Homo sapiens: one gene and its partner. The protein of the gene in region 1 interacts with the protein of each later gene in a pairwise test. Each region holds a gene or a part of one and is shown on either strand. Other genes may lie near its edges.

Region 1 (3,749 bases):
CCCCTGGGTGGCAAGAGCATCCCATCAGGAACTGAAGGGCCCAGTTCTCACCTTTCTTCTGTGATGTCTGATTCATTATGAGCTTGTAACGGAGATCTGAAAGCAAGCACACGCTCTCCTCAGCACTTGTGAAACCACAGCCATTCTGAGAGAAGAAGCCTGGCCTGTCCTCTCCTGGCTGCTGAGCCCGAAAGTCCTGCCCCCCCACTGGCTGATTGGGCCCTGCCCCATGGATCCCGCTCTCCACCATGCCTTTGTCGTGGGTGTCAGGCCAGGAGTGGCCCCTGCCTGTTCCCTAGGCAGAGCCCACCTGGCATATCAGCCTCATCCATCTGAGATGACTGGAGGGCGTCCACACTGCCAGGCAGAACCTGGGCTTTAGGGGTACAGAGGTGAACTCTGGAATCCCTGGCTATGGCGGTGTCATGATCCCGTGGGCATCAGGGACTGGGGGGAGGCTCAAGAAGATATGAGGAACGGGGCGTCCTGAGGCTCAAGAAGACATGGGGAAGCGGGGTCCTGACAAAACAGACGCCTGGTGATGGGATACTCGGCACTCAGGTAAGGCAGCAGCAGGGAACGGGGCGGGAGAGGAGGCCGCGGGCACTGGTGCCCTTGCTGGAGCCCTCCTGAAGCAAGAGCGAGGAGCGGAGCCACATCCCACATCCTGGCGGGCCCTCCTCCTGCTCGGGGCAGGAGGGGTGGGGGAGGAGGGAGGGAGAAAGGGGGGCGTGGGGGTGAGGAGCAGCTAAGGGTGCAGTTGGGAAGGCCCCGCCGGAGGACAGCATGGGCACAGGCGAAGCGGGGACGGGGTGGGGGGCGGGGGAATGCCTGCTCCTGATCCGATGTGTTTAGCTGGAAGAAATTCACTGAGCTGCGCACTCGCACTTGGGCACGTTTCCCTGCATAAAGTTTTTGTTTGTTTGTTTTTGTTTTTTTTGAGACGGAGTCTCGCTCTGTCACCGAGGCTGGAGTGCAGTGGCAAGATCTCGGCTCACTGCAAGCTCCGCCTCCCGGGTTCACGCCATTCTCCTGCCTCAGCCTCCCGAGTAGCTGGGACTACAGACGCCCACCACCACACCCAGCTAACTTTTTGTATTTTTAGTAGAGACGGGGTTTCACCGTGTTAGCCAGGATGGTCTCGATCTCCTGACCTCGCGATCCGCCCGTCTCGGTCTCCCAAAGTGCTGGAATTACAGGCGTGAGCCGCCGCGCCCGGGCCCCTCTATAAAGTTTTTAACAGAGGTGTGTCTGACCCTGCTTGGAGAGGAGAGGACTGGCGGAGTCAGCATCTGAAATGCTGCTGCCCTAGGAGACAGGCAGACAGGTTCGGCACTGCCCGGGGGCCACGCGGGTCTCCCTCTGGGAGGAGGGGACAGCTCAGCGTGGCAGGGCGGGCTTACCGTCCTGTGTTCCCCCTGAGCCCAGGCGTGTGCTGGAGTTGATGGCTGTGTTTCTGTGCTGCGGGAGCGGCAGTGTTGAGTGTGCCTGGGGAGGCAGGGCCGGCCTAGGGCCCCGCGCCGGCTCACCCTTGTTTTCCCGCTTCAGATGCTCGATCTCCTCATGGAGCTTGGCCAGCATCTCCGAGTGCTGCTGCTGCAGGAACTGTAGGCTCTTCTCCAGGTCCAGGTTCCGTTTCTGCGGGTCGCTCTGCCTGAGCTGCGGGCTCTGCGGCCTCAAGGACTGGACGCCCACAGAGGGGCGCTGGCGCCGGCGCCGAGAGCCCGGGGTCGGCGAGCTGGGGGGCCGCGTCCCAGCCGCCACCCCCGCACCGCTCATATCGCCATCGCCAGGTACTCTCCCGCTGCCACTGCACCCCGGCTCAGTGGCCAGGCCGCCCTAGCCTGGCGCCCCGTCACCATGGAAACCGGGCGACGGAGGGCGCCAGGCGTTTGGCGGGGGCGGGGCCTGTCGCTGGCTCTTCCTGGGTGAGTAGTGATTTACAAGGCATCCAGGGCTGGGCGCCGGGGCTCACGCCTGTAATCCCCGAACTTTGGGAGGCCGAGGCGGACGGATCACTTGAGGTCAGGAGTTCCTGACCAGCCTGACCAACATGGCGAAACCCCGACTCTACTAAAAATACAAAATTTAGCCGGGCGTAGTGGCGGGAGCCAGTAATCCCAGCTACTCCGGAGGCTAAGGCAGGAGAATAGCTTGAACCGGGAGGCAGAGGTTGCAGTGAGCCGAGATCGCACCGCTGCACTCCAACCTGGGCGACAGAGACTCTATCTAAAATAATAATAATAATAATAATAATAATAATAATAATAATAAAAGGCATCCTTTCCAGCCTGGATGGAAAGTGAGCCCCTGTCTCTATAAAAATTAAAAGAAAAAAAACCCGGGCATGGTGGCTTGCGCCTGTAGTCCCAACTGCTCGGGAGGCTGAGGTGGGAGGATTGCTGGAACCCCGGAGGTCGAGGCTGCAGTGAGCTATGATGGCACCACTGAACTCCAGCCTAAGTGACAGAGTGAGATGCTGCCTAAAAATAAGAGGCCGGGCGCAGTGGTTCACACCTGTAATCCCAGCTACTCCGGAGGCTGAGGCAGGAGAATCACTTGAACCCAGGAGGTGGAGGTTGCAGTGAGCCAAGATCGCGCCATTGCACTCCAGCCTGGGCGACAGGGTGGGATTCTGTCTCAAAAAAAAAAAAAATAATAAATAAATAAATAAATTTAAAAATAATAAAAATAAAAAGTCTTTTTTTTTTTTACAAGGCCTGCCCTCAAAAAAAAAAAAAATCACAGCCAGGCCAATCATAATTTTGCCAGACACCAACAAACCTGGAGGAAGGGAACATAGCTAACCCCAGCCTGCTCTGGCTCTCCTTCCCCACATCTTACTGCCACATCAGCGGGGCTCCTGTATAATAACAGGGGATACAAGTGAAAGAACTGCTCATCTCAGAGCTTATTCGAGAAATCTCTAGGAAACCGTAAAGACAACAGGGAGACAAAAACTAAGACACTAGAGGAGGTTTAAGCCTCTGACACCTCCAGTTAACAAACAGCACACATGGCACAACCCCTAACCAGACCAACATAAAACTTCACACAGAAAGTCCATTTACTGGTTGAGCATGACCAGCCCTCAACAAAAACTTGCAAGGCATAATAAAAAACAACACAGTTCGAAGACACAGCAAGCATCAGAGCCACACTTAAATATGGCAGAGATGTTGGAATTATCAGACCAAGAAATGGAATACGACTATGATTAATATGCTAAGGGCTCTAATGGAAAAAGTGGACAACATGAGATTACAGACTGATAATGGGAACAGAGAGGTAGACGTTCTAAGAAATAATCTAAAGAAAATGTGAAGGCCAGGCAGGGTGGCTCATGTCTGTAATCCCAGCACTTTGGGAGGCTGAGTTGGGCAGATCATTTGAGGTCAGGAGCTCAAGACCAGCCTGGCCAACATGGTGATACCCCATCTCTACTAAAAAATACAAAAATTAGCTAGTGTGGTGGCATGCACCTGTAATTCCAGCTACTTGGGAAGCTAAGGTGGGAGGATTGCTTGAATCCAGGAGGTGGAGGTTGCAGTGAGCCGAGATCATGCCACTGCCCTCAAGCCTGGGCAACAGAGTAAGACTCCATCTCAAAAAAAAAAAAAAGAAGAAGAAAAGAAAAGAAAATGTGAGAAGTTGGCCAGGCACAGTGGCTTACACCGCTAATCCCAACACTTTGGGAGGCCGAGGTGGGTGAATCACTTGAGGTCAGGAGTTCAAGACCAGCCTGGGCA
Region 2 (3,448 bases), on another chromosome or scaffold:
TTTAGAATAGAACATTTGGATTCAGGTGATCTGGCCAGATTTCCTGAAGTGGTATTTGGGTACCTGTCTCCATCCATGATTGTCATCAGCACACCAAACTCTGAATTCAATCCCCTGTTTCCATCAGTGACCTTAAGAGATTCAGATCATAAATTTGAGTGGACCAGAATGGAGTTTCAGACCTGGTAAGTTCAGAAGGGTTTTTGTTTATTTGGGATCCTGTTGGAGTTTAAAATCTTAGGAAATAAATATTGATATACATACATTACCTAAATTGTTTTGTACTTTCTTCCAATAAAATTGATTCCAATGTGTGACTTAGTATGTAATAAGATCACAAAGGAACCATTGCATTTGGGCAAGTGTGGAAAGGGGGTGTGGTTACTGGGCACCTTTTATGTGAAGGCATCTGTAGTACTGGCATGGAGATGAGGAACAAAACAGAGGGAAGGTTTGGGACAGTGAGAATGAGCCTCATGCCCCTCCCCGGGATATCTCCTGAGGCTTAGTCATGTTTTCTGGTGTAATTGCAAACCCAAATGGGTAGTTGGGTTGAGCACTTGTTGCCTCCTTGTCCACCCCTACACCCTGCCCATAATTTTCCTTTCGTCTTCCATATTCTTAGGGTAAATTGGAAACTGACACTATATCCTTGCCTTGACTTCTCTTAGAAATAAATACACTGGTGGTTAGGAATTTGTAACTTAGAAGTATTTATGTTCATTGTATTTTTCATGTTCTCTTTTACTGCTGACCAGAAATGGTTCCTTATTTAACAGTAGCTCTACATTTAGAAAAATGATTGCTGTCCTCGTTTTGGTTTCAGGGCTTTATATGTGGCAAATCGCTATGATTACTCTGTGGAGTTTACTGGTGTCGGGGAACCACCAGCTGGAGCTGAGAATGTTGGATACTGTACCCAGATAGGAATCTTCCGGAAAAATGGAGGAAAGGCAACAGAATCATGTCTTTCAGAGCAGCATGATCAGCATGTTTATAAAGCTGTGAGTATTCTTTGTGAGATAGCTATCAGGGCTAGAGATACATTAGGATGGTGAACTTTTTTGGGGAGTAAGAATCCCCAAAGTAGAGATGAGTGTAAATGACCTTGCTTTGTGGTTCACTCTAGGAGAATTCTTCAGGCCCCATGACTACTGTCCGAGTTAGCCTACGGTGTCCTTTGAGACTGCCTGGCCTTTTGGTGTTTCAAGGCATGTTAAAGGGAATGATCTGCTGGGGTTGTCTTAGAATACTTCAAAGTAGCTGGGTACAGTGGCTCACACCTGTGATCCTAGCATGTTGGGAGGCCAAGGTAGAAAGATTGCTTGAACCCAGGAGTTCGAGTGCAGCCTGGACAACATAGTGAGATCTCCCATCTCTACAAAAAAACACCCAGAATACTTGAAAGCAATAGTTGAGCAACCTCTTTTTGTAATCTGTTAGGATTATCAGTAGTAAAAAGGAAAGCCAGCAGCAGTTTCTCCCCAGCTTGGCTTAGGACATTACTCTTTGAGCCTACAAACTTCTCAGACCCTTTTGGTTTAAAGAGAGAAGAAGAAGAAACACTTCCTCCCCCTCTTTAAAAATTTTATTTAATTAGGGACAGGGTCTTGTTCTGTCACCGAGGCTGGAGTGCACCGGCACAATCATGGCTCACTGTAACCTTGAATTCCTGGGCACAAACGATCCTCCCACTTGAGCCTCCTAAGTAGCTAGGACGACAGGCGTGCACCACCATGCTCAGCTTTTTTTTGTTTTGTTTTTTGTTTTTTTTTCCGTAGAGACAGGGTCTCACTATGTTGCCCAGGCTGGTCTTGAACTTCCATCCTCAAGCAATCCTCCTGCCCCATCTTCCTAAAATGCTGAGATTACAGGTGTGAGTCACTGCACTTACCCACGTTTTCCCTTTTAACTGAACCATTTTTCATTTTTTTTTGCCCTTGCCCCTGTAATATCAAGTAGAAATACTGGGTTCATGTGACTTGGTAGAAACCTGGCTGGGAGACATTGGGCATTAGCATTAGAAAGCAAATCGGATAGTTAATTTCTATGTGTCAGTGATTTGATTCCCATTATAACTGAGGCATTTACGATTAGTAGGATCTGACATATATTCAATATGTACATTTATTCTTACATGGCAAAAAAGTTATTGATGGCTTTGAAAATTTATGTATGTTTATATTATTATACACTTGTAAGTGTTTTGTTTTTTCCCTTCAGGTTTTTACCACCTCATACCCAAGCTTACAGCAGGAAAGGTTCTTTAAACTTGTGTTGGTTAATGAGGTGTCCCAACAAGTGGAAAGCTTAAGAGTGAGCCACCTGCCAAGGCGGAAAGAACAGGCTGGGGAACGGGGTGATAAGCCCAAAGACATTGGTGGCTCAAAGGCCCCTGTCCCATGCTTTGGACCAGTCTTCACAGAGGTTGAGAAGGCCAAGATAGAGAACTCTCCCACACCCTTCTGTGTTGGAGATAAATTTTTCGTACCTCTGCAGAGACTCCTTGCGTATCCCAAGTTGAACCGCTTATGTGCTAATGAAGAGATGATGAGATCAGTCATTGCTGACTCAATTCCTCTGAGCAGTGATGGTTCTGCAGTGGTGGCTGACCTGCGTAATTATTTTGATGAACAGTTTGAGTTTTGAACCATGTTTATTTCCTGAAATTTCAGGGTCTCAGCGATAGTTGTGCTCACTTAGAATTTAGTTTTTTTTGTGTAATCCTAATTCAAGTAATGTTTTTAAAGTTTCACTGCAAAAGTCTATGTTCCAAGCCATTGGACAGACCTGCTTGAGATATGGCCAGACTGCAGTGAGCCCTGAGAAAGATATGAGGGTTTAAAACGGGTGCTTTCCTTTGATTTTGGACTTTTTTGTTTTCTCAAGAATAAAGAAGTTGGATGTGGTAATATGTTAATTTTGAACTTACCTATTTTTTTTGTGTTAAAGCCATGAGTTGATTGTTGTTAGTCTGTTCTCACATTGCTGTGAAGAACTACCTGAGACTGGGTAATTTATAAAGAAAAGAGGTTTAATTGACTTACAGTTCTGCAGGCTGCACAGGAAGCATGCAGGAAGCTGGGGAGGCCTCAGGAAACTTACAGTCTTGGTGGAAGGCGAAGGGGAAGCAGGCACGTCTTATATAGCTAGAGCCGGAGGAAGAGAGCTTGGGGAGGTCTACACACTTTTAAACAACCAGGTTTAATAACAAGAATAGCAAGGGGGAAATCCGCCCTCATAACCCAATCACCTCCCACCAGCCCCCTCCTCCAATATTGGGGATTACAATTTGACATGAGATTTGGGCAAGGACAGAAATACAAACCATATCAATTGTGATATTAAAAATTTAAGAGAAAGTTATCAAATATAGTGTTCAAAACCTTTTCTTTGGGGTAAGAGTAGCTTTAAAATTTTTCTGGGATTCTCTATCTCCTTAATGCCA

Evidence for each region. Proteins that work in one complex are often made in the same cells at the same time.
Region 2: the proteins of CCDC74B (region 1) and HENMT1 interact in binary tests that used the Homo sapiens proteins (3 or more experiments, as listed by UniProt).

Annotation. Positions count from the first base shown.
Region 1 is NC_000002.12:130,143,218-130,146,966, forward strand, and holds the start of CCDC74B (coiled-coil domain-containing protein 74B), read right to left. Parts: upstream 1,896-3,749; 5' UTR 1,780-1,895; coding exon 1,530-1,779; coding exon of another isoform or gene 1,404-1,529; intron 1,258-1,403; exon of another isoform or gene 1,123-1,257; intron 97-1,122; coding exon 52-96; intron 1-51.
Region 2 is NC_000001.11:108,647,767-108,651,214, reverse strand, and holds the end of HENMT1 (small RNA 2'-O-methyltransferase), read left to right. Parts: intron 1-5; coding exon 6-185; intron 186-826; coding exon 827-1,004; intron 1,005-2,223; coding exon 2,224-2,649; 3' UTR 2,650-2,920; downstream 2,921-3,448. UniProt on the Homo sapiens protein: Methyltransferase that adds a 2'-O-methyl group at the 3'-end of piRNAs, a class of 24 to 30 nucleotide RNAs that are generated by a Dicer-independent mechanism and are primarily derived from transposons and other repeated sequence elements.